7 linked regions of the Homo sapiens genome follow. The protein of the gene in region 6 interacts with the protein of the main gene of each other region in a biochemical or structural test. Each region holds a gene or a part of one and is shown on either strand. Other genes may lie near its edges.

What was found.
Region 1: the proteins of HECTD3 (region 6) and PARP1 form a complex in vitro, tested with the Homo sapiens proteins (one study listed by BioGRID).
Region 2: the proteins of HECTD3 (region 6) and UBE2D2 form a complex in vitro, tested with the Homo sapiens proteins (3 studies listed by BioGRID).
Region 3: of the proteins of HECTD3 (region 6) and CHUK, one has a biochemical effect on the other in vitro, tested with the Homo sapiens proteins (one study listed by BioGRID).
Region 4: the proteins of HECTD3 (region 6) and UBE2S form a complex in vitro, tested with the Homo sapiens proteins (one study listed by BioGRID).
Region 5: the proteins of HECTD3 (region 6) and RAF1 form a complex in vitro, tested with the Homo sapiens proteins (one study listed by BioGRID).
Region 7: the proteins of HECTD3 (region 6) and CASP9 form a complex in vitro, tested with the Homo sapiens proteins (one study listed by BioGRID).

The regions. Positions count from the first base shown.
Region 1 is NC_000001.11:226,362,835-226,367,085, forward strand, and holds part of PARP1 (poly [ADP-ribose] polymerase 1), read right to left. Parts: intron 3,219-4,251; coding exon 3,120-3,218; intron 2,321-3,119; coding exon 2,168-2,320; intron 1,237-2,167; coding exon 1,109-1,236; intron 327-1,108; coding exon 265-326; intron 1-264. UniProt on the Homo sapiens protein: Poly-ADP-ribosyltransferase that mediates poly-ADP-ribosylation of proteins and plays a key role in DNA repair.
Region 2 is NC_000005.10:139,620,034-139,624,284, reverse strand, and holds part of UBE2D2 (ubiquitin-conjugating enzyme E2 D2), read right to left. Parts: intron 918-4,251; coding exon 824-917; intron 1-823.
Region 3 is NC_000010.11:100,187,578-100,192,125, forward strand, and holds the end of CHUK (inhibitor of nuclear factor kappa-B kinase subunit alpha), read right to left. Parts: exon of another isoform or gene 4,416-4,548; intron 3,392-4,415; coding exon 3,292-3,391; intron 2,051-3,291; coding exon 2,021-2,050; 3' UTR 1,932-2,020; coding exon of another isoform or gene 1,851-1,931; 3' UTR 723-1,850; downstream 1-722.
Region 4 is NC_000019.10:55,401,424-55,404,946, forward strand, and holds part of UBE2S (ubiquitin-conjugating enzyme E2 S), read right to left. Parts: intron 3,056-3,523; coding exon 2,865-3,055; intron 2,725-2,864; coding exon of another isoform or gene 2,578-2,724; exon of another isoform or gene 2,540-2,577; intron 1,920-2,539; exon of another isoform or gene 1,709-1,919; coding exon of another isoform or gene 1,520-1,708; intron 1,235-1,519; exon of another isoform or gene 1,167-1,234; intron 340-1,166; coding exon 13-339; 3' UTR 1-12. Other genes in the region: RPL28 (large ribosomal subunit protein eL28), read left to right, coding at 1,520-1,708. UniProt on the Homo sapiens protein: Accepts ubiquitin from the E1 complex and catalyzes its covalent attachment to other proteins. Catalyzes 'Lys-11'-linked polyubiquitination.
Region 5 is NC_000003.12:12,587,186-12,591,436, forward strand, and holds part of RAF1 (RAF proto-oncogene serine/threonine-protein kinase), read right to left. Parts: intron 3,790-4,251; coding exon 3,613-3,789; intron 453-3,612; coding exon 406-452; intron 1-405. UniProt on the Homo sapiens protein: Serine/threonine-protein kinase that acts as a regulatory link between the membrane-associated Ras GTPases and the MAPK/ERK cascade, and this critical regulatory link functions as a switch determining cell fate decisions including proliferation, differentiation, apoptosis, survival and oncogenic transformation.
Region 6 is NC_000001.11:45,004,505-45,008,393, forward strand, and holds part of HECTD3 (E3 ubiquitin-protein ligase HECTD3), read right to left. Parts: intron 3,818-3,889; coding exon 3,736-3,817; intron 3,092-3,735; coding exon 2,909-3,091; intron 2,768-2,908; coding exon 2,715-2,767; intron 2,512-2,714; coding exon 2,447-2,511; intron 2,292-2,446; coding exon 2,188-2,291; intron 1,613-2,187; coding exon 1,493-1,612; intron 1,380-1,492; coding exon 1,290-1,379; intron 303-1,289; coding exon 96-302; intron 1-95. UniProt on the Homo sapiens protein: E3 ubiquitin ligases accepts ubiquitin from an E2 ubiquitin-conjugating enzyme in the form of a thioester and then directly transfers the ubiquitin to targeted substrates.
Region 7 is NC_000001.11:15,493,006-15,497,256, forward strand, and holds part of CASP9 (caspase-9 isoform alpha precursor), read right to left. Parts: intron 2,448-4,251; coding exon 2,268-2,447; intron 997-2,267; coding exon 887-996; coding exon of another isoform or gene 779-886; exon of another isoform or gene 31-778; coding exon 1-30. UniProt on the Homo sapiens protein: Involved in the activation cascade of caspases responsible for apoptosis execution. Binding of caspase-9 to Apaf-1 leads to activation of the protease which then cleaves and activates effector caspases caspase-3 (CASP3) or caspase-7 (CASP7).

The sequences.
Region 1 (4,251 bases), about 180 Mb from region 6:
TGCTATAGAGCTTGCCTATTTTTTTTTTTTTTTTACAAAAATAAATAAAATGAACCTCCAATCATGGTCAGTTGCAGCATATTAACCACCACCACCACCCCCCAAACAACAACAACAACGCACACACACCCCTCGAAAAGATAAAATGAATCTCCAGCTGTTTGACAGCCAGCCACAAGGCAGCCTTCTCAGGACAGCAAGCCCCCGGCTTCTGTGCTGTCCAGGGTGCCTCGGGCTGTAGCAACAGCTTTGGAAACACTTTACCTTTGACACTGTGCTTGCCCTTGGGTAACTTGCTGATATGTGAAGCGTGCTTCAGTTCATACCTATTCAAAAGAGGACAGTCTCAGAAGAGGCCTTCACACTGGGCTCTCGAAACCAACAGTTTGATTAGGAGAATAAGATCAGATACAGAGATGAGATAAAAGTCCACAAAACCCAGACCATCTAAACTGCTCAGGCTCCCTCCTGAGTTTCTGGAACTGTTCCAGAACCTGAAACTGCAGTTGCGGCTGAACATAGTTTGTGCCCAGCGATCACTGCTATGGGGCCATTTTCAAGGCAAGGCCCTATTTGGAGTGGTGGTCAGCAGCTCTAGGTTTCCGTCCACATTCCACAGTCCCCAGACCCCTGGCCTTTTACATGACCTTGTGCTTTTGGTTACAGTTCACAGGACTAGGGTCGATGTCCAAATCAAGCTGGACTAATCAGATCTTTCTCTATGGAGAATCTGGAAGTGGAATTAAAATTCCAGTTCCATTTGGGTTGGTCTAAGAAAACTGAAACACTGGTGAGTGGAGGAGGCGGCCTGGGGGATCATCCTTTGTGCAACTCAATCTCTCTGCTTCCCAGTCCATGGAGAGAAGACACTGCCAGCTCTGGAGGCCTGGCTGCGTTCCTGCCCTTGCATTTCCTGAAGTATCCTTGTATCTCCCTTGTTCCCTTAACTTGAATTGGATTCTGCTACTTATAAGAAAAGAATCCTAATTGGTGCGTCCAGTAACTGCAGTGGGGAATTTCTACTCTCCCAGCCAAGGGGAGTTCTGCCTATAGCCCATTCCACCTGTCCCCATGAAATGCCATCAGTCCCAGAGCCAGGTTTACTCACATGTTTCCAAGGGCAACTTCTCCCAACAGGATTAAGCCTATTGGGTCTCCCTGAGACGTATGGCAGTAGTTGGCACTCTTGGAGACCATGTCAGCGAAATAGATCCCTTTACCAAACATGTAGCCTGTCTGGAAGGTCGGAAAAGGGAGAGCTGAGAATCTTCTGATGGGAAATTAGGAGCAGCTGTTCACTGAGTGCCAACTTGAGCAAGCCACCCAGCTAAGTGCTGCAATCCATCACTTCTAATTCTCACAATGCCCATGGTGAGGAAATACCAAAGTTTTAGCTCACAAGCCAGGCTGTCAGATCCTAGCTCTGCCAGGTGCCAAGGAGCTGCAAGAAGCTACGTAACCTCTCTGGACTCTACTTGCCTCTTTTCTCAAATGGGGAACACAGTCTCATGGAGCTGCCATGAGGACGGAATGAGCTCATCAGTGTTACTTAAACTAGCGCCTGTCAACACCCAAGGAATGCAGGCTGGTATTTTTATTCCCTTTTGTAAATGAAACACGAGGTTCACAAAGGGTAGGCCATTTGCCCGTTATACACTACTGCACAGCCCCAGAGAGAATCATTTAAACTTCTCTCCTCCTCATTCTACAACTGTGAAACAAGAGGCTTAGAAGGTCCTGTCCAGGTGGACCCATCTAGAATCCAGCAGGTGGCATCACGATCCCTCGTGTCTAGGTAAAGCCTTACTCATTCATCGCTACGTTTTCCTGCTGAAGACACTGACACTCAGAGGTGGCCCGGCTGGGAAGTGGTAGAGATAAGCCTGGACTCAGCTTGGCCTGTAGCCACGTGTCTGTTCTTTGCTTGTCAACACACCCGATTAGCATCTGCAGCAGGCCCTGGCCTGGATGCTCTGCCTCCTTTGTTCCAGAAACTGTGTTTGAAACCCCTGACAGGGTTAGGGTCAGGAGGATAAAAGGGTGAAGGCCCAAAGAAAGGATGTCTGGCAGAATCCCCCTAAACCAACTAGACCTCTTGCTCAAAGTTCTTTATGGAGACACCTGCAGAGACAGGCATTGCCCACCCCTCGCCAGGCCAGGCACATACCACGGGCGCTTCAGGCGGGGCTATCCGAAGACCCTGGGACAGGATCCCAGCAAAGTTGGTGGTCCTGGACCCGTGCCACAGCAATCTTCGGTTATGAAGCTGCTTAAAGGGCTTGTAACGCTGGCATTCGCCTTCACGCTCTATCTTAAAGATCTGGTTGGAGTAGTAAACAAAGGGAAGGACAAAAGAAGCCATTTGTTACTCTGGTTGACTGAAAGACAGGACTGGATACACGAGAAATGACCGGCTGTCCCTAAGGCTAGAAGACTTAAGGTCTGCTGCAATGTAAAAAGTGTTTTCCACAAGGCTGGGATGGAAGGTCCAGGTCCTGCCCAGCAGCGCCCAGCCATTGCTGGTTAGTATTACTGTGCAGCAGATGTGCACTTGAGGAACTTTATCTTGGACATCTGATAATCTATGTTCTGAGACCAGGTTTGGGGACAGGAAATGTCCTTTAAAACAGAATAAAAAGCCATCCCCAAACTACTGTATAAGACTGCTAATTTTATAATCCCAGCACTTTGGGAGGCCAACGCAGGCGGATCATCTGAGGTCAGGAGTTCAAGACCAGCCTGGCCAACATAGTGAATCCCTATCTCTACTAAAAATACAAAAATTAGCAGAGTGTGGTGGCTCACGCCTGTAATCCCAGCTACTCTGGAGGCTGAGACAGGAGAATCACTTGAACCCAGGAGGCAGAGGCTGCAGCAGGCCGGGATTGCACCACTGCACTCCAGCCTGGGTGATAGAGTGAGACTCCATGTCAAAAAAAAAAACAAAAAACAAACAAACAAAAAAAAAACTACTAATTTTTCTGCTGAACAAATGAGTCACTTCTTTGGGTTATTTAAAGTAAATAAACTGCTCTTTTCTACCCAGGCCCAGGTTGGAGGAGTGGGCAGGGAAGAGCTGGCAGGACACAGAAGGAAGTGGGGGAAGAAGGGATTCTTACATCGATGACTTCCAAGTCATACGCATTGTGTGTGGTTGCATGAGTGTTCTTAACATACTTCCTGATGATCTCGGCTTCTTCAGAATCTCTGTCAACCACCTGGATAAACAGAATCTTGGGATTAGCACAAAAGAGACCCAGGAGAGCTACAGAGGAGGAATGCTCAGGCTCAGTCAATGCATAGCTCAACACCACACTCCTCAAAGGAAGCCGGGCATGACCGAGAGCCTGTGTCCCAGGCCTGTGGGCTGGGCAGATCCTGGGCCAGTGGCTCCACTTACCTAAGCCTCCACCTCTTCATCTACTTGGGCTGCTAGAGAATCTCAGGGTTCCTTTTTGTCTTAAAATTCTATGTTTTGGGATATCAGGGAAGCTAGAATGTGGGATTCACTGTCAGTGAACAGGGCATCTCCAGAACAAGCAATTGGCTCCTGGAAGAGAGTCCAGCTCAGCATGAGTTAAAACACAATGGGCCAGAGGAAGTCACAGCTATGATGTGCAATGAAAATTATCCCTGGCTCAGAGCACAGGCCTAACAAGCATCTGTCAAATAGCTGATGTAATCTATGCTCAGTAAGCCTGAGTATTACGGAGGAGACTAGTTATGTTTTATTTTCATATTTATATTCAAACTTCAGAAAACCTAGAATGCTGGTCTACCTCCCTGTCTTTTAATTAAAAGGCTTCAGAATTGTAAAAAGAGAATAAGAATCCCTTCACGAAGAACCACACCTACAGTTTTCCCATCAGGAAGGTGCTCTAGGGGCAAAACAAATGACATGTGGTGTCTTACCCTGCTTGGACCCATAGGTCTATACTTTGTCCTAGGAAAGAAGCCAAGGCTCTTTCTTTAGCGATGTAAACACCTGGTACCAGACTCAACATACTCTCGCCCACCCAAACCCCTGCAACACTGCAGGGAATGGGCTGAGGACAATGGGGCACATGAGTGTGGAGATAGGCTCAAGGACCGGGCCATCTAGAAGCTGAGGCAAAAATCCCTCCTCTAGTTGGTCTAAGCGGGGTGTTCAGAGACTGTGTGTGCCAACACAGTCCACTTCAGCACCAGAGAAAAATGAACGCAAGCATTGTGTTTTTATTACAGGTGCCATCAAGCATTTCCACTTCTGAA
Region 2 (4,251 bases), on a different chromosome or scaffold from region 6:
ACTATCTCTTTTGATATCTTGACCACTGTTCAATAATTCATAGTACAATTCTAAAATACCCAAATTCTACATCAAGTTTTGTTTTTAAAAGAAATTTGGGGCTTTCACGTCTAATGGCATTTATTTGCTTTCTTCCTTTAGATTATGTCAAATGGTAGGAAATCAATTCTCTTTTCCCATTAATTGACAAATACCTATGGCAGGCAAATGGGCACTTGATGAAAAGTGCTTTATATATCAAAAGCCAAGCATAAGGCATTAAGCTGTTGAAAAATATACCATAGGAAAGTTTTTGTATGGGTGTGGTGGCTCACACCTGTAATCCCAGCACTTTGGGAGGCCTAGGCAGGCAGATCATTTGAGGTCAGGAGTTCGAAACCAGCCTGGCCAACATGGTAAAAGTCTCTACTAAAACTACAAAAAAAACGAACCTGGCGTGGTGGCCTGCGCCTGTAATCCCATCTACTCGGGAGGCTGAGGCATGAGAATCACTTGAACCCAGGAGGCGGAGGTTGCAGTGAGCCAAGACTGCACCATTGCACTCTAGCCTGGGTGACAGAGTAAGACCCTGTCTCAAAAAAAAACAAACAAAAAAAAAAGTTTTTGTAGACAAGAGGAGTCACGTGAAACAATCAGGGATAAGACTGGCATCATCTACTTATAATAATACTCAATGCATATATTTCTCTTTTCTAGCCCCAGGAGAGTATATTAGGACTTCACTTTAAATATCTGGCCGATATTCAGCCCTTAAACAAGAAAGATTTGTGACAAACATCTCCATCCCACCACAGATAACTTTCCATCTTGAGGCCATACTTACTTTTCTCTATCTGTTTTGTAGATCCGAGCAATCTCAGGCACTAAAGGATCATCTGGATTGGGATCACACAACAGAGAACAGATGGACAAGAGTACTAGAATGAAAAAAATCATATAAATTAGCAGAGGATCAAAGCAAAGGGTTGAGAGAAACATGAGACGCCAAAACATGAGAAAATTCTAAGAATTTATACTGTAATGCCTAGCAGCTTTGTAAGTTTTACTTAACTTTATATTAACAGTAACCAACAAGGATTATTATTATTATTATTATTTCTTTTTTTTTTAGCAGAATTGGGGTTTCACCATGTTGGCCAGGCTGGTCTCGAACTCCTGACCTCAGGTGATCCACCCACCTCGGCCTCCCAAAGTCCTGGGATTACAGGCTTGAACCACCATGCCTGGCCTAATTTTTGTATTTTTAGTAGAGATGGGGTTTCGCCATGTTGGTCAGGCTGGTCTGGAACTCCTGACCTCGTGATTCACCCGCCTCGGCCTCCCAAAGTGCTGGGATTACAAGCGTGAGCCACCACACCTGGCAAATAGTTTTTTTTATTTTTTATTTTTTGAGACGGAGTCTGGCTCTGTCGCCCAGACTGGAGTGCAGTGGCGCGGCGCGGTCTAGGCTCACTGCAAGCTCCGCCTCTCAGGTTCACACCATTCTCCTGCTTCAGCCTCCTGAGTAGCTGGGACTACAGGCACCCGCCACCACGCCCGGCTAATTTTTTGTATTTTTAGTAGAGACGGGGGTTTCACCGTGTTAGCCAGGATGGTCTCGATCTCCTGACCTCGTGATCCGCCCACCTTGGCCTCCCAAAGTGCTGGGATTACAGGCGTGAGCCACTGCACCCAGCCTACCAACAAGGATTTTAAGAAGCTTAAACAGACTTTAGGTTAGGTCATTAAAAAATAAAAATGAAGGCTGGCTGCAGTGGCTCATGCCTGTAATCCCAGCACTTTGGGAGGCGGAGGGGGGTGGATCACGAGATCAAGAGATTGAGACCATCCTGGCCAACATGGTAAAACCCCATCTCTACTAAAAATACAAAAATTAGCTGGGCGTGGTGGTGTGTGCCTGTAGTCCCAGCTACTCAGGAGGCTGAGGCTGGAGAATCGCTTGAACCTGGGAGGTGGAGGTTGCAGTGAGCCGAGATCGTAGCATTGCACTCCAGCCTGGGCGACACAGCAAAAAATCCATCTCCAAAAAATAATAATTATAATAAAAAATAAAAAATAAAATAAAACAAATAGCAGAAAATTAATGTTAAATGACATCTTGGTCTCCCAGATACAAATATAAGCCCCTTTGTGCAAAGTCTCACAACAATCCCATGATGTAAGAAGAGTTGATATGACTGTCTTTATGCCTGAACTCCTAAGGGAGCTGGCCCAGACAGGTGCAGTGACGTGTTCAATGTCCCTGGCTAGTAATTAGAATAGAATTAGAACTTTGTCTAAATTCTAGACCAAGAACATTTTTCAGATCCCATAAAGTTCAATTTTTTAGAAGCCCATATTCAAGGATAAATGGCTTTCAAAATTCCAAGTGCGATGGCTCACTCCTGTAATCACAGCACTTTGGGAGGCCACAGCAGAAGGATCGCTTCAGGCCAAGAGTCTGAGACCAGCCTAGGCAACAGAGTGAGATTCTGTCTCTACAAAAAATAAAAATATTAGCTGGATGTGGTGGCACACTCCTATGGTCCCAGCTACTCAGGAGGCTGAGGTGGGAGGATCACTTACGCCCAAGAGGTTAAGGCTGTATTGAGCTGTGTTCACACCACTGCACTCCAATCTGGGTGACAGAGTGAGACCCTGCCTCAAAAAGAAAAAAAAAAAAGACAGCCACACTACTGAATATTCTTAGCAAAAACGACAACCATAAAATCCAACAATCACTGTTTTCCAGTGGCAGGCACCACATTCAGACAATTGTTTTGTTTAATTTTCAGTTGAAAACAATTCAGTCTAAATCAAGAACATAAATGCAAACACTTGCCCCTAAATGGGGATGGTCATACACTCATTACAGAGAATACAACATACTTCTATGAATGTCTCAAATTCTCTTCAGTGACAATTTAGAATCTCATCTAAGCCATTTCCTCGGTGACAACCTGGGATGTAGCAGACAAATCTCAATAGTGTAATTTCCTTTGTTCAAATCTGTCATTAACTTATGTTTTAAAATATTTATTTATTTATGTATGTATTTATTTAGAGACAGGGTCTCACTCTGTCGCCCAGGCTGGAGTGCAGTGGCATGATCTTGGCTCATTGCAGCCTAAACCTCCTGGGCTCAAGTCATCCTCCCACCTCACTCTCCAGGTAAGACTACAGGTGAGTGCCACCATGTGTAGCTAATTTTCTTTGTATTTTTTGTAGAGGTTGGGTTTTGCCATGTTGGCCAGGCTAGTCTTGATCTCCTAGGCTCAAGTGATCCACCTGCCTCGGCCTCCCGAAGTGCTGGGATTACAGGCGTGAACTACCACACCCGGCCATATCTATCATTAACTTATGCATTCCTTACTGAATGCAAAGGGGGCATAAAGTCACTGATTACATTAAGTTCAGTAGCCTCTGACAAAATAAATTTAAATCCTTCTATACTAATGCTAATAGAGCTCAGCCATCTTTCTTTTCTCTAATAGGTGTTCTGTACCAAGAGATAATAACTCTCAGCCCATTTTACTCCCAACACATAAATTCAGCAGGGAAAGGATTCGCTCATATTCCTACCAAATCTATCCTATAGAGATCAAGGGCTTCTGAGAAGTAAAGAAATAGTTGGCATGCCCTATTCAGTTTGGTAACAAAAATGCTATTTCCTTGCCTTAAGAGTATATGAAAAGTTTTTTTAAAAAATCAGGAGAGATGTTTTCTGACTCTTCATTCCTGTTACCCACAATTCTGGCAGCTGGCATTCCAAAAACATTTTCCTATTGTCAGGTGTCATCACCTGAAGCCCTCTTCAAGCATAGAACATTCTAACATCAATTAGGAAAGACTTCATGTATTTCCTGGAAATGACAACAGGGAAGTTAGAAATTTTTGAATGTTCCTTTAACTTATTCTTCTAAATATTCTAATAAGTCAACTTTAAAGGACAGGTTTTAAAGAAAGGGCTTTTCTTTCTTTCCAGGAAAGGAGAGTACTGGCTATCTGGACCTTGTGAAAAGATTTTTAGTACACTACTTAGCTTCTTGATTTCATGAAGAATTCATTTTGGTTTCTAATATACTGATATGGTTTGGATCTGTGTCCCCACACAAATCTCATGTTCAACTGTAATCCCCAACGTTGGAGGTGGGGCCTGGTGGGAGGCGACTGGATTATGGGGGTGTATCCTTCATGAATGGTTTAGCACGACCCCTTTGGTGCTGTTCTTGTGATAGAGTTCTCATGAGATCTGGCTGTTTAACAGTGTGT
Region 3 (4,548 bases), on a different chromosome or scaffold from region 6:
AATGTATACAATTCACAACTGCCATTCCCCTCTGAAAAGTTGTTACCCACCAAAAAATAGTGGTCCAACTCATGCATCAAAAGCAAGTTTGGGGATCCCACTATAATAGTCTGTTCTGACTCACACCATCTGCCCAAATTATATAGATCAGGCTGCCCTGACATAACCCCAGCCACACACCAGCAGCGGCCCCCACGCTATAACAAATCTTTAACCAATTATTAAAATATTAGAAAATGCATGACCATTGAAAATAATCCTTAACAATAATTGCAATGCTTGGATGGCTTGTAATGTTCAGACTCCCAGATAAGCACTTTTACTATACTGCCTATGTTGTTTCAGATCTTGCCATCTAGCTTAATACCCTCCAAGTAACAGGTACCCAATAAATGTTTATTACTAAAATCTTCTAAAACCAGGGAAACAAGAGAGAGACTGCCTATTATAATAGATGACGAACAGTGATATGTGATGACTAAAAAATTTGGTTGACTAGGAAAATGATACCACTAGCAAAAATGGGGATGGTGGGGCTGTGACATCAGTTTATAGGGCAAGAATCGAGCATGTTTTTTAGATGTAGATAGTGGTGATAGGACATCTCAGAGGAAAACACTCTTAAAGAAGTTGCCCAATACTACCTTTACCATAAGTCCTATTATTCCTAAGGAAAGTACAGTTATTCTATGCTCTTAATTCCACTTCATGGAACCTTCATATTTTCCTAAGCCATATTCAACTGTTTTATTATAATCTGATTTTTATAATGAATAGAGATCAAGAAAGTAATTTAAAAACCATTTAATACACAAAGTGAAAAACTATTAGAATATAAAAGCATTTCACATTTTTTAAGACAAATAATATCTTCTAAATTACTTAGCAGATGATAGAGGTCCACAGTCCTTTCTCTGAAACCCTTGGGGCAAGTTGTTTCAGAATTATGAAATTTTAGATTTTAGAAAAGTAGTTTTGTGCATATACCATACTACATTAACCAGCCCTCACCACAGTCTGTGGCAGCAGCCCTCCCTCTCATCATCAAGCAGCAAAATAAAGGAATATTCACACTAAATGGGATAAAAAGATTCAAGGTCAGTTCAGATTAGATTGCAAGCAAATGAATTTTGTCACCAAGCTTATGGAAACCTTGTTTTCAGAGCTTTTTGGATTTTGGAATTACAATTACAGATAAAGGAGTGCAGACCTTTATAAATTTGTATGACAAGACATGAAAGATTGTTTAAACAAATGACTCATTTTTACAAATGAAAAAACATGTAATTTTCAAATACATTATAAATTAACAGGCATCTTCTCTTTGATATTATTAAATGTACATCTTAAATACATATACACACAACAACATGATTTATGAAAGCCAACTAATATTAGAAGCACAGATACACAATCCCTTCGATGAGAAGGGGATACTGTTAAATTTTCAGTGGAATTTAAAATGATTACACCAACTCCTTATGATGCCAGGAAGAGAACCTGTTCAGTGCAACACAAGGAGGTAGAATTTATTCTTCAAGAAATAGAACTTGTGAGCAGCCTTTTTAGAAAAAAACACAGGTAGACTTTTACTTAAAATGCCTATTACTTGAGGTTTTCTTCTCTGTATACAAAACTACATTTGGTCTTACGCCCAAAAGTTAAAAGTTGACACTAATACATAGAAGGTATTTTTAATCAGTTAAATAAGTAATGTTTTACCAAGACTGAAGGCAAATGTGTCGTGATGATGCTTCTAAATAGCTGTGGTATTAAAACAAATATTCAAACAAGTACATTGACTTTTTCTAAATTCCTGTCTGTTTAGAGGCTTGAATTACTCAAAACTGTTATACTTGTAAAATCATGTTCTTCTGATCATAGTAGAAATGTAGTTTCTGTTCATAGCCATTTCTTCCATTGACTGATGTCTGAAGAATGGTTTCATGGGGGAAAAACACATTTCCAACATGTATAGCAACAACTTCCATAGGTTTGGGGACAGTGAACAAGTGACAACTCATTCTGTTAACCAACTCCAATCAAGATTCTAAAACCAGGCATGAAAAAGTTACAATTAGATGTTGACTATAAGTTATAAGTATATGGGTGTTCATTTTTGCAAGTTTTCTGTTTGGACATTTCATAATCAAAAGTTGAAAAATCATTTCATTTACCTTATTTCCTGATTTAAAAAAATTTCAGAGTTTTTTTCATAAATATTTGAAGTAAACAATTATTCTTTCCTTTTCTTTTCTTTTTTTTTTTTTTCTTAAGAGAGCAGGATCTTGCTATGTTGCCAAGCTGGAGTACAGTGGCTATTCACAAGTCCAATCATAATGCACTGCAGCCTTGAACTCCTGGGCTCATGCAATCCTTCTGCCTCAGCCTCCCTAGTAACTCGGACTACAGGTACATGTCATATGGCTGGCCACCATTATCCTTTTTTTTTTTTTTTTTCCCCGAGACAAAGTCTCACTCTGTCACAGGCTGGAGTGCAATGGCAGGATTACGGCTCACTGCAGCCTGAAACTCTTGAACTCAAGCGATCTTCCTGCCTCAGCCTCCCAAGTAGCTGGGACCACAGGTGTGTGCCACCACACCTGGCCAATTTTTATATTTTTTATAAAGACAGGGTTTCCCATGTTGGCCAGGCTAGTCTCAAACTCCTGGGCTCAAGCAATCCACCTGCCTTGGCCTCCCAAAGTGCTAGGATTACAGGCGTGAGCCACCATGCCTGGCCACTGCTATTTTTCTTAATGAAAGAGGAAATGTACAGAATTGACATTAAGACTAAATGCAGGAAAAATTGATTCAGTAGACATTTTATGGTAATTTCCTCAAGTTTTAACAAATCAGTAGTTTATAGTAACCAAATCTTAACACACACTTATTATTACAACTATATTAACATAATTTATTTTCTATTCGGGAGGTACCATATCTGAATTAAAGTACAAGTCCCATCTTAATGGAGAAAATTGATTGCTGAAGCAAAAAGGTACAGAACAAACCATTCAATTTCAATGGTCACATTGTGAAGAAGCTTACCACTCATTTAATTTGACCAAAAATGCTATTATTGAAGATAATTGATGACATAATCCTAGTATATCCCTGAGTAACGGCAGATAAGGATTTAAGGTTGAGGATATTCCCCAAATGCTCTTTCCTCTTGAGTTCTTCTATTTCCCATATGCATCCCAAATGCCAGATAAGGCTAGCATGGAAAGTTAAACCTTTTGCACCCAACATAGCCAAAGCAGGCACCCATATCCACACAAAACTTACCATCATACTATTGCCCTGTTCCTCATTTGCCTCATGAATAATAGTGCTTAAATGGCCAAGGCAGTTCAAATTTTCTTCTATCATTTGTGCTGAAGTCTCCCTGTGAGATGAAAGAACAAAGCCTTTTCAAACTCAGGAAAAGGGCATATGAATTTCCTCTACTTTCTAGTCTTCTAGGTTAGCAAGATCACTAGCCTTCCTGTAACCCAGTACCCCAGTGCAGTTGACTCCTGTAGTCTTTAGTTTCCTCATCCCTCCCTACAGAGGCAGAGTCCTGTTAAGACCAGGCTGCTGCCTCTACCTCTACCTAACTAATGATAAGAAGTCCACTATAACTCCAGTCTGACTTTCCTCTGAAATGTAAGATGCACTTATGTACAACTTGTTTTTCCCGTGAAAATGTAACTAGGGAGGAAAAAATCCTTGTGGCAAAGACAGATGAAATACGTTTTTGTTTCTAAATACTTCTCTTTCCTTAAAAGTAGTAAAAACACCAGCATGCATACTTCACAGACACAAATGTAGGGGAGAAGAGAGAAAAGTAAAATCTGTTCTGTAGAGATCACAGAAAGTGAAAAACTCATTAGAAACTACAGATGATAGCAATGAAACGAAACAAGCAAGCTGATTCCTGAGGACAGCAAAAGAAAACAGTGTGGTGGGGGAGCTACCCAGAACCAAGAAGTATCCCTGGAAGTTCATATTTGAAGGCAGTCCTGATTGTGGTTTCTACCTTCATGCTTTCCTCTTCTATATGGCCTCTAGCTTCTCCCTTTGCCAATCTTCAGTCCCCTAACAAGAGTCCGTTTTAGGTCATGGATGATAGCCACTATTAGCTTAGAATGACATTCTGATTCAGCTCTTATCCAACAGATGGAAAAATTATGGTCAAACAGTTCCCAATCCTTGGTAGTTAAGTACCACAGGTACATTATAATTGAAATCAATTTTCTTATACAATGTATTCTGGCTGGACATGGTGGCTCATGCCTGTAATTCCAGCACTTTTGGAGGCCGAGGCAGGTGGATTACTTGAGGTCAGGAGTTCGAGACCAGCCTGGCCAACATGGTGAAACTCCGTCTTTACTAAAATACAAAAATTAGCCAGGTATGGTGGCACGCACCTGAAATCCCAGCTACTCGGGAAGCTGAAGCAGGAGAACTGCTTGAATCTGGGAGGCGGAGGTTGCAATGAGCCAAGACTGTGCCACTGCACTCCAGCCTGGGCGACAGAATGAGACTCCGTCTCAAAACAAA
Region 4 (3,523 bases), on a different chromosome or scaffold from region 6:
GAAGAGAGCCCACTACAGCCGCCGCAGCGCCCGCTTCTTGTCCGTCTTTTTCTTGGCCGCCAGCTTCTTATCGCGCTCGCCAGCATGCTTCTTGGCCATGGGACCCTCAGCCCCTCCCGGGCCCCCTGGGGCCCCAGGGTCGGTGGAGGAAGCTTCAGTGCCACTGGCCAGGGCCCGACCGGCTTCGGCCCTGCCGCTGGGCCCGCCGGCGCCCCCGTGGATCTCTGTGAGCAGACGGGCCCGAGCCGCATACTCCTCGTAGTTCTCCAAGAGCAGGCGGCCCGCCTCCTCGTTGAGTGCAGACTCGGGGTTAGGGTGGATCAGCAGGCACTTGATGGTCTGTGGGAAGAGGCTCAGGGTCACAGTGGGTCGGGCAACCTACAGGGACCCCCAGGCCTCCACAAGAGGGTGGCCTCCGCACTGGCTGTTCCTTCTGCTCCCAACTCAGCTGCAGATCCAGGCCCCACCTATGCTGCATCCTCCCTCATCTTTGCTCCTGTCTCCCTCAGAGGCCACCTTCATGTGACCTGCCTCACAGCAGATGTTCCCAAAAGGACACGATGCCATAGGCCCAATGGTTTAAAATGTCCCTGGTCCTCCGTGGAACTTGCTGGGTAACGGGGGAAACGCCAAGGCCCCCTCTCAGGAGTCCATTACTTGCCTGAGCCCCAGACTTGAGTCCTATTATGGTTTTGAATTTGCCTCCATGCAGTTCAGCATGACCTTAGAGGCCCTCTGGTTCAACGAGTGAGGCCTGCAGCCTGGACAGAGAGAAGAGACTTCCCCAGGGCCTCAGGATTTGAGGAAATCACACCTGCGTGTTGGACTCTAAAGCTCCCCATCTTTCCAGATACAGCATAAATCCTGACCTCTGTCTTTTATCAGACATCCGAAGTTCACAGCCTAAGACTCTAGCTGGGTTGGACCACACACAAGAGGGCAAGACACCAGGACTGCTGGCTGAGGTGCACTTCGAGGGTGGTCCAGAGATTCCTCTCAACCCCCTTCACAGCCCGTCCTGAGGGGTAAATTGGAGTGCAGAGGTGTGACCTGCAGCCAGGCCTCCAGCAGCCCCAGCTGGATCCTCTGAAGTGGGTCTGGGCAAACTGGCCACAGCAGTTTGCTCCCTGGGGCCACTATGACACATACACAGTACCTGGCTCAGCAGATGCTCAGCAGATATCACTGATGGTGACCAGGACACAGGTTCCCACCCTAATTCTCATCACTGCACCCAAACTGCAGGTCTGGCTGCTCTTCTTGCTGGCTGAGCCCCTGACAGGCCCAGATGCTGACCTAGCAGCAAGTAGGCCTGGAGCTCGGTGCCAATGTCCCCAGCAGCCTCCAATGACACCCCAGGGGAAGGGAGGCGGTACATGTGGGAGGGAAGGGTTTGGGGTCTGTTTACCTTGGAGCTCAATCCTCTCCCTCCCCATGGCAGGAAACCCCAATTCCCCACCCTCTCTGCCATGTGCCCCAGGGACTCATTAGAAATTTGGTTAACTTTTTTTTTTTTCAGCTTGCGGGAAGGGTTGGGAGGCAGCAGGCTGTAAGCAGCCTGGAGCACCAGCCTAGACCAGGACGCCTCCACCTCAGCAACACCGCAGCCAGGTCATTCTGTGTCATGGAGCCATCTCGTACGCTGCAGGATTTGGGCAGCACCCTTGGCCTCCACCCACTAGATGCTAGTGGCACCCCCGAGTTGTGACAACCCTTTCTGGTCTCCTGACAATGCATAATACCCCTTGGGGGGCAAAATCACCTCTGGCTGAGAAACACTGGTTTATGAACCCTATCGCTATTAAAAAACCACTGAACTGTATACTTTGGAACTGAGTTTTACGGCATGTAAGCTCAGCTTTAGCAAAAAAGCCTCTAATGAGACCCCATCTCTGCAAACCATAAAAATATAAAAACTAGCTGGGTATGGTGGTGCATGCGTGTAATACCAGCCATTCAGGAAGCTGAGGCAGGAAGATCACCTGAGCCCAGGAGTTCAAGGCTACAGTGAGCTATGACTGCGCCACTGCACTCCAGCCTGGGCAACAAAGAGCCAGTATCTTTAAAACAAAAAGAAAGAAAGGAAAGAAAGGGAAGAAAGAAAAAGGAAAGAAAGAAGAAAGAAAAGAAAGAAAGAGCTTCTAACTAGACCCTTGACCTCCACCTGTCAGAAAACTGTCCTACAGGGTAGGCGCAGTGGCTGGCTCCTATAAGCCCAGCACTTTGGGAGGCCGAGGTGGGAGGATCACTTGAGTTCAGGAGTTTGACACCAGCCTGGGCAACAAATGAGACCCCATTCCTGTTTTATTTTTTATCTTATTTTTTTTTTTTTTTTGAGATAGAGTCTCACTCTGTCACCCAGGCTGGAGTGCAGTGGCGCGATCTCGGCTCACTGCAACCTCTGCCTCCCAGGCTCAAGCGATTCTCCTGCCTCAGCCTCCCAAGTAGCTGGGATTACAGGCATGTGCCACCATGCCCGGCTAATTTTTGCATTTTTAGTAGAGACAGGGTTTCACCATGTTGGCCAGGCTGGTCTCGAACTCCTGAGCTCAAGTGATCCACCACACCTGGCCTACCCTATCCTTGTTTTTTAAAAAAAAGGGAGAAGAGAAAAACCATCCTACAATACAAACTCACCACTCGTTGCATAGTAAGGTGCTCCTGGGCACTTCTCAACAGTACTTGGGTGTCCTGGGTCTGGCACTGTTTGTCTTTCCAGGAAAGCTAGCAACATGGATTTTTATGTGGAAACCTTCAACCACTTCAGAGTTGATTCAGAAAAACTAAACAAAGCGCTATGGCTCAGACACCAGCAGACCTCCAGAGGCAGGAGGCAGGAGGCCCAGCCCCAGCCCAGAACTCACCAGCAGTACGTGTCGGATGCCCAGCTCAGCCGTCCAGTCCCTCTTGAGCACGTTGACGCAGATCTCGCCATTGGCGCCCACGTTCGGGTGGAAGATCTTGGTCAGGAAGTAGCCCTTGGGTGGGGAGGCAGGGAAGTCCTTCCCCAGCAGGAGTTTCATGCGGAACAGACCTCCAGCATATGGGGTCCCCTCTGGAGTGGAGGGAGGGGTACAGGGTCAGGGCACTCAGGAGTCCCAAGGCACCTCAACACCCCAAAGTCCAGTCTCCACGGTCTGATTGTGATGCAGGTGGGTGCCCCGCCAACTCTGCCAACAGACTGGAGGATTCTTTTTTTCTTTTTTTGAAATAAGGTCTCTTGTGTCACCCAGGCTGGAGTGCAGTGGCACAATCTCAGTTCACTGCCGCCTGCAATTCCTGGGCTCAGGTGATCCCATCTCAGCCTGCCAAGTAGCTGGGATTACGGGCATGCCACCAGGTCTGGCTACTTTTTTATTTTAAGAGATAGGGTCTCACTATGTTGCCCAAGCTGGTCTTGCACTCCTAGGCTCAAGCAATTTGTTCACCTCAGCCTCCCAAAGTGCTGGGATTACAGGCGTGAACCACCATGCCCAGTCAGGCTGTAGAATTCTTAAGAGCAAGAGGCCAGGTGTGGTGGCTC
Region 5 (4,251 bases), on a different chromosome or scaffold from region 6:
CTACTTGCTATCCACATAACAAGCAGATAGACATACACACGCTGGCCACAAACTAGAAATAAACTTAAGACAAAAGCCCAATCCCCGTCAGGTTACATTTACTAATAGTGTGATAAAATTATGCCTATTTCAAGCTTACGGAAATCTCTCCAAATCACTTTTGCTGAGATAAACTCAGAAAGGAACCTAACCTAAACATCGCTCTCATCAGTCCAGGTGAGGCATAAGCTGCTGAGGGACAGGCCAAGCCTACTAATTTTCTGACTTTTCTGTTTTCCTGTCCTCTGCCTCTTTCCTTAAAAAGATATCCCCTGGCACCGAGAGCCACTTGTGATAGAAAGCCTCCCTTCTGTTTCCCTAAATTTAGAACCGAGCAGTCAAATGAACTCAACAACCAAAGGATACTGTTGGATTTCATGTCTCTATGGATGATGTTCTTTGCATGCAAATAGCTGTGAAGGGAAAAGAAATTATTAAAAATAAGTTTGAGGGGCATGAGTAGAAAGCAGTTTTAAACTACAGCTAAGAAGTAAAGCCACTGAAGGCCTGGCTCCAAGGAGTGTTACACACAGGGATAGACCCTGTGCTGTTCAGCCTGGTTCACATCACTGCTTACCTGAAGGTGAGGCCACAGCACAAACATGCTTACACCTTTTTTTTTTTTTTTTTGGAGACTGGAGTGCAGTCAATAGCTTACTGCAGCCTTAACCTCCTGGGCTCAAGTGATCCTCCCACCTCCCAGTAGCCGGGACCACAGGCATGTGCCACCATGCCGCCTTTTTTTTTTTTTTTTTTTTTTTGGGTAGATACAGGGTCTTGCACTGTTGCCCAAGCTGGTCTTGACTCCTGGGCTCAAGTGATCCTCCCATGTTGGCCTCCAAAATGCTTGGATTACAGGCATGGGCCCCTGGCGCCTGACCATTGCTGACACTTCTTCAAGCATCAGTTTTACTCTAAAGTAATTCTGATAACCCAATGTCCATAAATGATGAATGAATAATGTGGCATATCCATACAATGGAATGTTACTCAGACACAGAAAGGAATGAAGTAGTGACTCATGCTACACATTAACCTTGAAAATACTATGCTAGGTCTAAGAGCCCAGGCACACAATACCATATCTTATGTATTATATACAGCCAAGCATCACTTAACGGCAGGGATACCTTCTGAGAAATGTGTTGTTAGCCAACTTGTCATCATGCACACATCATAAAGTGTATTCACACAAACCAAGAAGGTACAGCCTTCTACACACCCTGGCTAAATGGTATAACGTGTTGCACTTAGGCTACAAAACTGTATGGCCCTCAGTGTACTGAATACTGTAGCTGGTTGTAACATGGTGAGTATTTGTGTCTCTAAACATAGCCAAACATAGAAAAGGCACAGTAAAAATACAGTATTATAATCTTGTGGGACCACCTTCCTATATGTGGTCATTGACCGAAACATCATTATATGTTACCTGACTATATTATATCTTACATGATTCCATTTATATTGAACTATAAAGTAGGCAAAATCCATAGAAACAGAAAGTAGACTGCAAGTGGGTGGGAGGTATTGGGTAACCTCTAATGGGTATATTGTTTGGATATCTGTCCACTCCAAATCTCAAGTTGAAATGTGATCCCCAGTGTTGGAGGTGGGACCTAAGTGGCAGGTGTTTGGGTCATGGGGATGGATTCCTCACAAACGGCTCGGTGGCCTCCCTGCAGTAACGAGTGAGTTCACACACTATTAGCTCACATGAAACCTGGTTATTAAAGAGTCTGGGACCTCCCTCCATGCTCTCTCTCTTGCTCCTTTCTCTCACCACATCACACGTGGCTCCCCTTGCCTTCTGCCATGAGTGAAAGCTTCCTGAGGGCCTCACCAGACACAGATGCTGGTGTCATGCTTTTTGTACAGTCTGCAGAACCCCGAGTCAAATAAACCTCTTTTCTTTATAAATTACCCACCCTTAGGTCTTCCTTTAGAGCAACCCAAACAGACTAATACAATGGGCATGTGTTTCTTTCCGGGATAATGAAAATGTTCTAAAATTAGATAGTGGTGGTGGCTGCACAACTCAATACCAGAAAAACACTGAGGTAGGTGTACATTTTAAAAGGGGGAATTTTATGATGTATGAATTATATCTCAATTTTTCTGAAAAGTCATTCCATTTCTTAAAATACACAGAAGGCAACTTCCATATGAATTTTAAAGACAGTGTGAGAATTTATGTAGGACTTGCAAGCACAGCTATAGCTTAGTAACTCCCAGATGTCTAGGGGTACGAGGAGCTCCTCTACTTCAGAGGAGAAGTTTGAGAAGCACTACCCTAGGCTAGCCAGGAAAGGTGGGAGGATCACTTGAGTCCAGTTTGAGACCAGCCTGGGCAACATAGTGAGACCTCCGACTCTACAAAATACACGAAAATTAGCTGGGCACGGTAGCATGTGCCTGCAGTCCCAGCAACCTATGAGACTGAGCCAAGAGGATAGCTGGAGCCCAGGAGTTCAAGGATGCAGTGAGCTATGATTGCGCCGCTGCACTCTAGCATAGGTGACAGAGTGAGAACCTGTGTCTCTAAGGAAAAAAGTGTGGTTTTTTTGGGTTTTTTTTTTTTTTTCAGATGGAGTCTGGCTCTGTCACCCAGGCTAGAGTGCAATGGCACAATCTCCACTCACTGCAACCTCCGCCTCCCGGGTTGAAGTGATTCTTCTGCCTCAGCCTCCCGAGTAGCTGGGATTACAAGCGCCTGCCACCACAACCAGCTAATTTTTGTATTTTTAGTAGAGATGAGATTTCACCACATTGGCCAGGCTGGTTTCGAACTCCTGGCCTCGTCATCCACCCGCCTCAGCCTCCCAAAGTGCTGGGATTATGGGCATGAGCCACCGTGCCTGGCCAGGAAAAAGTTTTTAATTAAAAAAAAAAAATTATCCCAAAAACAACATCTGCTTAAACCCTCATGTGGGACAGCCATGCCTCAGACAGCTGAGCAGAAGGCATTGCCACAGCTGTCCAAGCAGAAGGTACATGCACCCCACTATATTCTCAGGTTTCTGATAAAGCCAGGGTAGCAGGCAGAGCCCAAAGCTGAGCCCCAAGGGGGAAGTTCAGTCCCAAGGAGGAACCTGAACTTCTCTTTTTTTTTTTTTGAGACAGAGTCTCGCTTCTGCAGCCAAGGTTGGAGTGCAGTAACGTGATCTAAGCTCCCCGCAACCTCTGCTTTCCAATGTTCAAGCGATTCTCCCTGTCCCAGTTCTTGAGTAGCTGGGATTATAGGCATGTGCCACCAGACTTGGTTCATTCTTGTATTTTCAGTAGAAACAGGGTTTTGCCATATTGGCAAGGCTGGTCTCAAAACTACTGGCCTCAAGTGATCCACTGGCCTTGGCCTCCCAAAGTGCTGGGATTACAGGTGTGAGCCACCCCACCCAGCTGGAACCTGAACAACTCATTCCTGATAATTGGCCCCTCCAGCCCAGGCCAGAGGCTTGTGCAAAGATATCACAGAATCGCTTAATGGACTAGAAGGCTTTTCCTGATCCTGGTTCCAATTTAGGGACAAATTTGATGCCTGGGTCCCAGAGAGGCATCAGACCATCTACTCACTCCATTCCCTGAGCCGTCTGCCGGGCAATGTCAATTAGCTGGAACATCTGAAACTTGGTCTCCTGGACATGCAGGTGTTTGTAGAGGCTGCTGCCCTCGCACCACTGGGTCACAATTGCCAGGTTGTCCTTTGTCATGTACCCCATGAAAAGCAGAATGTTCACATGCCGTGTTTTGCTGGGGAGGGGAGGGGAAGAGAGGAGAGGGAGGAGGAAAGTGCTCAGGGAGGTCTACTGTGCTTTCCCGTGGACAGTGGGTTCTGTGCTGTCGACACCACCCCCAGTCCCAACACCACCCCCAGTCCCAAAAACAAACACATGGCACGGCTGATAACCCGGGTGGCATTCTGAGCAAAGAGAAGCCCACCATTAGTTCACTGGGCCATCAGTTCAGTGCCAGCCTTGCTTACAGAGAGGACATTCTCTTTCATCAATGTACACTCCATGACCCTCCTGTGGAGGTCACAAGGACTCCTTGTAGAAGTCTCCATTATATGACTTATTCCTACAAGTCTAAATAGTGACTGAAAGATTGGAAAGCTGACTGTTCTGAAGTCTAAAATAAGGCAACTCAGCTATAAAAAAAAGGGTTCTGGGAAATAAAGGTAAAAATAGGGCCTATTTCTGCCCACCTCAAACC
Region 6 (3,889 bases):
GGAGTACTGGTGGCTTACAGGCTGTGTTCTGGGTCCCAGGAGCTGGGGCTCAGGAGGGGCCAAAGCTCTCTGCTCTACTAGCCTCTGGGTACTACCTGCTCCTTGCTCTCCTCTAGCCGTGCCTTCTGGACCAGTTGGATGAAACGAGAACGGTCCCCATATCCCACGACGATGCCTGCACCCCCAGGGATCAGCTCCACCACCTGTTGGTCACTCAGTACAGTGGTGAATGTTAGTTCCTTCCCAAACTTGAACTCAAACGTCTCCTTGTCCATTCCTTCCATCACTTCCAGGAGCTTCACCTAGGGGTTGGAGAGAGGCAGGGAGGTAACCTTTTCACTGTGGAGATAGTCCCTGTCTTTCCACAAGATGCTCACAGGGAAGCAGAGACAGCCAGGCAAGGCAGTCCCCATGGAGGCAGCAGGGAATGAGGGTGTCAGTACAAGAGCTGTAAAAGCATCAAGACAACACCTAACCAGCCTTGGAGGCCAGAGGAGGCATCCTGTGGAAAATGGTGTCTCAGCTGAGACCCAAATGATGGCTGGGACATAAGGGAAGTTAGGAGAGAGAACATCTTGGAGAAAGCTGGAAAGAGCAAAAGGCCTAAGGAAACTGTGTGGCTGGAGCCTGAATGTGAACCAAGTGGCTGGAGACACAGGGTTCACGTAAGGCCTTTACAGATTCTGCATTCTATCCTAAGCCCAGGGCCGAGCCATCAATGAGTTTAAATAAGGAGAGTGAAATGAATTACTGTGGCTGCATGGAGACCAAACGGGTAAGAACGGAGACAGGGACACCAGCTTTTTAGTAAGTGATTAGCTAAGGAGGAAAGGTGTCCTCAACCAGGCAGGGAGACAGTAGTGAGACAGGAAAAGCAAACAGATTACAGAGGAAGACTTAAGAATATGGTGGCGAGGGAGAAGAAGGGGTGAAGGATGGCCCTGTGGGCTTTGGGATGGGGAGGAGTGGGACATGGTGCCCTTCTGAGGCAGGAGCCCTAGAGGGGAGTAGTCTTCGGAGAAGATAAAGAACACACTGAGCCTGAGATGCCATCTTGGGGCAAACGTCGAGGGTACAGATACATATATGGCCCCAGGCTTAGGAGAGGCTGGGGCTAGAGGTCAGGATTTTAGGGGTCACGAGTCTACAGACAGTAGTTGAAGCCATGGGAGTGGATGGATTGGAGAGGGATCTTGTGTGTGGTGAAAGAACAAGGTACAGAACAGCCTTAGGGAGGACCAACCTTTAGGGGCTGGGCAGAGGAAACACTGGTTCCAGGTCCTACTCACCAGCACAGAGTCCACAGCTGGGAAGTCCTTGCTCCAGCTCACCTCCTCACCAGAAAGCTGCTTCCACACAAAACCAGGCAGGGCCAGGACCTGTGTGACAAACACTCCCCACTGTCTTCTCACCCTGAGCTGCCCAGGTTTGGCTGGCCTTTCCTTCCAAGGGCCAGGGCTGATCGGACGGGGGTGTGGATAAGGCTACTCACCAGGAACTCCTTACCCCGAAGGGCAGCCCCCATCAGCTGTCCGATCCATTCATACTTGGCAAAGTCTCGGCAGGAGGGGTTGGGTACATACATGTCCCGAGCCTCACCAGTGCCATTGCCCTGCCCCAGAGACAGAGCTGTGAGTGTGGCATGAGATACACCCTATTTTCCTGGCCCAAAGACTTCCCTGAACATTTTCCACTGGGAACATTTTCCACTAAATGATCCCTTCAAATGCACAGTGGCTCCTCCTCTCCCTGTCTGCCCAGAGGTTGCCCTGAGCAACTCAGTCCCTCCTCTGCCCTATTTCTATTTTTTTTTTTTTTTGAGACAGAGTCTCACTGTGTCACCCAGGCTGGAGTGCAGTGGCGTGATCTCGGCTCACTGCAACCTCCGTCTCCTGGGTTCAAGCGAGTCGCCTGCTTCAGCCTCCCATGTAGCTGGGACTACAGGCGCGTGCCACCACGCCCGGCTAATTTTTTATTTTTATAGAGATGGGGCTTCACTTCATTGGCCAGGCTGGTCTTGAACTCCTGACCTCGTGATCTGCCCGCCTCGGCTTCCCAAAGTGCTGGGATTACAGGCGTGAGCCACTGTGCCTGCCCCCTTTCTAGCTCAATCTGGCCCCCTCCTCTGCCCCCTTTCTAGCTCAATCTGGCACCTGGGAGGTTTGCAGAGATGGAAACGGAGATTACCTGGTTGGCTGTGCGTACAAAGAAGGGCAGGGGCACGGGGGTATCCGCTGAGCTAGGGCACAGCTCTTCTGACATATCTGCCAGGCTGTCCCGGAAACCACCCCCTGAAATGACAGATGCCCTCAGCTGGGCACTCAAGAGCCCAGCTCCCATAATGGGGTAATGAATAGGTCCCCCATCATCATTAGCTGGTGAAAAGCCTCTACCACTTTGATAGGGCAGCAAGCAGGACCCTTGAGATCCTCCCTCAGGGCCTCACCTTGGTCAATGATGCCTTCTGCAATAAATTTACACTCCCACCACTGGTCATAGCGCATGGGCCACCTGCAAAAAACGTGGGCAGATTTGTCATTATGTGGGGCCAGGTGCAGCACAATTCATCAGCTCAGAGACCACCTGGGAAAAGCAGTCATGGCGAGGGGTGCCTCGAGCAGTTGTGTGTGTGTGTGTGTGTGTGTGTGTGTGTTTGTGTGTGTTTGTGTGCACAAACAGGTGTCCCGAGTAAGTCCCTCACTCTCATGCCATACCTGTAGTCCAGGGGCTTTTCATATTTGTCAGAGGGCTTGAGGCCTTCATATACCTGGAGGCAAGGAGGAAAGGAGTCATAGGAAAGCAAGACCTGGCCCTATACTTGCCCCAAGAACTTGTTCAGGTCCCTCTTGGCCTAGCCCCCTTGGCCCTTGACTGATCCTATCTCAGTCGGACCCTAGGTGGTGCAGACCTGGGTGAAGACTGCATTCTTGCAGGCAGGGTCTCGAGAGGGGCAGGCACGGTGTTCCATGGCAAGACGGCGGTTGATGTATAGGCGTGGCATGAAGCTGGGCTTGCTGCTCTCAGAGTCACGCAGGCACTGAGCCACCAGGCCTGGCCGCTGGCGGGACAGCAGTAGGAACTGCTTCACTTGCTAGTGAGGAGAGGTGGCCAGAGCAGGAATGAGTGGGCAGTCAGCCTCCGTCCAGGCCCTGGAACTTTCCCCTCTGCCTGTATCCAATTCCACCGTTTCAGTTCAAGTCTAGTCCATCCCTGTCTTTGTCTCCAGTCCCCTCCTTAGTTCAGCCACCAGGGAGAGCTTTCTAAAACAAAAAAATCTAATACTGTCATTACCTTCCTTACCTTTCCAACAGCTCCACTACCCTGGGACAAAGTCCTTGCTTCACAGCCTGGCCCACAGGGCCCTCTGCAACCAGGACCTGTCTCCTGCCCACATCCTTCCACCCTCATCCCTCTGTCATACTCACACCTACTGGCACACTTTTCTCAAGACATCTTGAGCTGCTGGTAACTCCCTGTATGTACCTTTCACGCAAACTGCCCTGCCTGTGCTGTCAATAGCCCTTGGGTATTCCACACACTCTGGAATACCAAGGAGGCTGGGGAACAGCCTCCCAAACACTAAATTTGGACCATTTGTTCTGGCTTTCTTCCTATGTTCCCAGACCCAGCAAAGGTCTTGCCCTAGAGTAGATTTTAGGAACTCTGCTAAGGAATGAACAACTACGTGAGCAGGAAGGGGAAATGCCAAGACCAGCACTGGCTGGGTCGGCTCACCTTAATCTCACTGAAGGTGCCCAGTGTGTGGTCCCAGGCAGGTACCAGGTGGTGCAGGACACTATCGAGGATCTTGATGAATCTGGCATGGGTAGATAGACTGCAGCTAAAGAGTTTAGCATACCTGTAACACCCCCAACTCCCCAACATAAAG
Region 7 (4,251 bases), about 30 Mb from region 6:
AATCCCTTTCACCGAAACAGCATTAGCGACCTGTAAGACATGACCATGGAGAGCTCTGTGAGTTCAGTTCTCTGGACTGAAGGAAGAATTCAAGAGGGGCTGGGGGGAATGTCCACTCAACCCGCACCTTAAAAACAGCTCAAACTGCAGCCTCTTTGAGCAGGAGGGCTTAAAGAATACGCACCTCAACTTTACCTTTAAAAAACTCAAAATTCAAAATTTCCAAATTCATAAAGTTCAAATCAGACTGAAATATTTGCAAGGAGCCAGGAGTGGCCCCAGCCTCGCAGCCCCTTCTCGTGGCATGAATACCTGAGCAGAGCAGCTGGGGCCCATACATGCTGCCTCCCAAGGCAGCCACAAGGCCACAGGACCCTCAGAGGAAGCAACTGCTCTGAGTCGGGTTTCTATGGAGTAGGACTGGGCCTATCAGGCCACCCTTCCCTATCTGTTTCCTCACTGGGGCCTCCTGAGAAGGCGATGTACAAGGAGGGGTTCACAATTCTTGAGGGTCAAGAGTAGAAGACTACATGATGCCCACAGGATATAGGGAGGGGCCCATGACCCGCCTTCAGGGTCTGGACAGAGCCATCCTGCGCTGGCACTGAGGACCAGCTCCATCAGTGGAGGAGCGGGAGGTGTCAACCTGGGGACCTTGGAGGAGACAGGGAAGGCAACTCTTTGAATAAAGGGCAAACGTCACCACAGGCAGGATGCCTCTCATAAAGAGACACAAAAGTGCCGACTCCAAGGCTCAGAGGCAGGAGTCTACTACCTTTTACCCTTGGTTTGGGCCTGCCCTGCTCACCCCAAATCCCCAGCCCCAGGAGGACACGCTGCCCCTCAGCAGCCTCCCCTCTCCTTTGCAGAGGAAGGCAGCACTCACCCTAAGCAGGAGGGACTGCAGGTCTTCAGAGTGAGCCCACTGCTCAAAGATGTCGTCCAGGGTCTCAACGTACCAGGAGCCACTCTTGGGGTCCCTCCAGGAAACAAAACCTTTGGAGGGAGGAGGGCTGAACACTGCTGGAGAGCCACCCCTCCGCCGGCTCCCCACCACCCCTCTGGCCATGCACGCTGGCTCGGGCGCCCTCCAGACCTTGACTCATACATACATCCAACAGGAGCAGCCTGGCCCCTGAGGCTCTGCCCTAATCATGATCTTATTTCACCCTCATGACCATCCCCTGATTCCGGCTATAATTCCTGTTTTCCCAGCAAGGAAACCAAGGCTTGGAAAAGTCAAGTGACTCATCCAAGACATAAGAAAGGAAGGAAACTGCCAGGCACAGTGGCTCACACCTGTAATCCCAGCATTTTGGAAGGCCGAGGTGGGCAAATCACTTGAGGTCAGGAATTCTTGACCAGCCTGGCCAACATGGTGAAACCCTGTGTCTACTAAAAATACAAAAATTAGCTGGGTGTGGTGATGCATGCCTGTAATCCCAGCTACTTAGGAGGCTAAGGCAGGAGAATTACTTCAACCCGGGAGGTGGAGGTTGCAGTGAGCTGAGATCATGCTACTGAACTCCAGCCTGGGCGACAAAGCAAGACTCCGTCTCAAAAAAAAAAAAAAAAAGGCTGGGCGCGGTGGCTCACGCCTGTAATCCCAGCACTTTGGGAAGCCGAGGCAGGTGGATCACGAGGTCAGGAGATCGAGACCATCGTGGCTAACACGGTGAAACCCCATCTCTACTAAAAATACAAAAAATTAGCCAGGCGTGGTGGCAGGTGCTTGTAGTCCCAGCTACTTGGGAGGCTGAGGCAGGAGAATGGTGTGAACCCGGGATGCAGAGCTTGCAGTGACCCAAGATCGCGCCACTGCACTCCAGCCTGGGCAACAGAGCGAGATTCCATCTCAAAAAAAAAAAAAAAAAAAAAAAAGAAGGAAGGAAACTACCGCTTGCTGCAACTACTACGTGCCCCGCACTGTGCTCAGTGACGTGCCAGCCACCTTGTTTAATTCCCATGGAAACCCCTGAGGCACGATTCCTATTCCCCTGCTAAAGATGCGAAGGCAGAGGCAGGGTCAGGCAGAGGAGAGGCAAGTGAGGCATAGGAACCCAAGGGCGCAGGCCTCCTTGCAGCGCGCATCCTTGCCCGCTCAGCCTGAGCCGAGGCTCAGAGAGAAGTAACTTGCTCAGGGTCACAGAGGGGCAAAAGACAGAACCAGGACTCATACCCTGGTCTTTTCTCTCACCACACAGCTGCCTCTAGGGCAGACGGGAAGACCCACTGGCTGCGAGGACGAGCCCTTCTGATGTGCTCACCTGGGAAAGTAGAGTAGGACACAAAGATGTCACTGGGTGTGGGCAAACTAGATATGGCGTCCAGCTGGTCGAAGGTCCTCAAACCTTCCTGGAACGGGGTGGCATCTGGCTCGGGGTTACTGCCAGGGGACTCGTCTTCAGGGGAAGTGGAGGCCACCTCAAACCCATGGTCTTTCTGCTCTGCAGGAAGCAGAAACAAACACCTCTTGTCATTGAAATACACAGACAAGGATGGTTCAACATATGAAAGTCGGTGCAATATACTACATTAACAGTGTGAAAGGAAAATAAATCTTGGGACCCCAAACTCATTAAGCCAAACGGAAAAGTCAAGCTGGGAACTGGGTCACGCAAACCTGCCTCCCCGTTTTGGTTCCTAAATAAGATGGCTACAAGATGAAAAGCTACACACCTCTCCCATATTTTGCCCACAAGGAAATTCCTGGTGAGCTCCAAGATAGTTGTCTGATAAAATTCACCACGGCAATGTAAATGGATAGCTTATCTTTACAGAGGCATCACCCCTCTGCCCACCTGGCACAAATGCATATCTGATTATTCCCCTGCCCCATTTGTCTTTGTTATCTTACGTAAAAATGCAGGTTCCCTGCATTTTCCCCTGCCCTATGTTACCTTACGTAAAAATGCAAATTCACTGAGCCAGACAAATGCTTGAATGACTATTTCCCCCTACCCTGCTCTTACCTGAAAACTGTGTACTTCTCAATATCCTGCCCTTTCCCCTTTAAATTTGGAACCCTAAAATTCATGTTCAGAGAAAGGCATAGACCTGTCTCCTGGGCGTGCATCCTTAACTTTGGCAAAAGAAACTTCTTAAATTGACTGAGACCTGTCTCAGATTTTTGGGGTTCATAAGAGAATGAAAAAAACCCTACATCATCATCTCAATTGATGCAGAAAAAAGCACATGACAAAATTCAACAAGCTTTCATGATAAAAACAGTCAACAAACTCAGAATAGAAGGAAACTACCTCAACATAGTAAAAGCCATATATGAAAAACCCACAGCAAACATTATACTCAATGGTGAAAGACTGAAACCTTTTTCTATAAGATCAGGAAGAAGGCAAGAATTTCTGCTTTTGCCACTTCTATTCAACACATTACTAGAAGTTAATAGAGCAAGGAGGCAAGAAAAAGAAATAAAAGACATTCAAATTGGAAAGAAGGAGTAAAATTATCTCTACTCACAAATGGTATGATTTTATATGCAGAAAACCCTAAAGATGAAACACTATTAGAACAAATAAAATTAGCATATTAGCAGGATACGAAGCCAACCACAAAAAATACTTCCATTTCTATACACTAACAATGAACAATCAGAAAAAGAAATTACAAAAATGGTTCCATTGACAATAGCATCAAAAATAATAAAATAGTTAGAAATTAACTTAACCAAGATGAAAGACTTGTAAAATGAAAACTACAAAACATTGCTGAAAGAAAGAAGGCTGGATGCCATGGCTCACGCCTGTAATCTCAACACTTTGGGAGGCTGAGGCAGGAGGATCCCTTGAGCCCAGGAGTTCCAGACCAGCAAAACCTCATCTCTACACATAATAAAAAATTTAGCCAGGTGTGGTGGCATGTGCCTGTGGTCCCAGCTACTCGTGAGGCTGAGGTGGGAGAACCACTTGAGTCCAAGCAGTTGAGGCTGCAGTGTGCAGTGATCGCGCCACTGCACTTCAGCCTGGGTGACAAAGCAAGACCCAGTCTCAAAAAAGAAAAAGAGCCGGGCACAGTGGCTCACACCTGTAATCCCAGCACTTTGGGAGGCCAAGGCAGGCAGATCACCTGAGGTCAGGAGTTTGAAACAAGCCTGGCCAACATGGTAAAACCCCGTCTCTATTAAAAAATACAAAAATTACCCAGGCGTGGTGGTGGGCACCTGTAATCCCAGCTACTTGGGAGGCTGAGGCAGGAAAATCACTTGAATCCAGGAGGCGGAGGTTGCAGTGA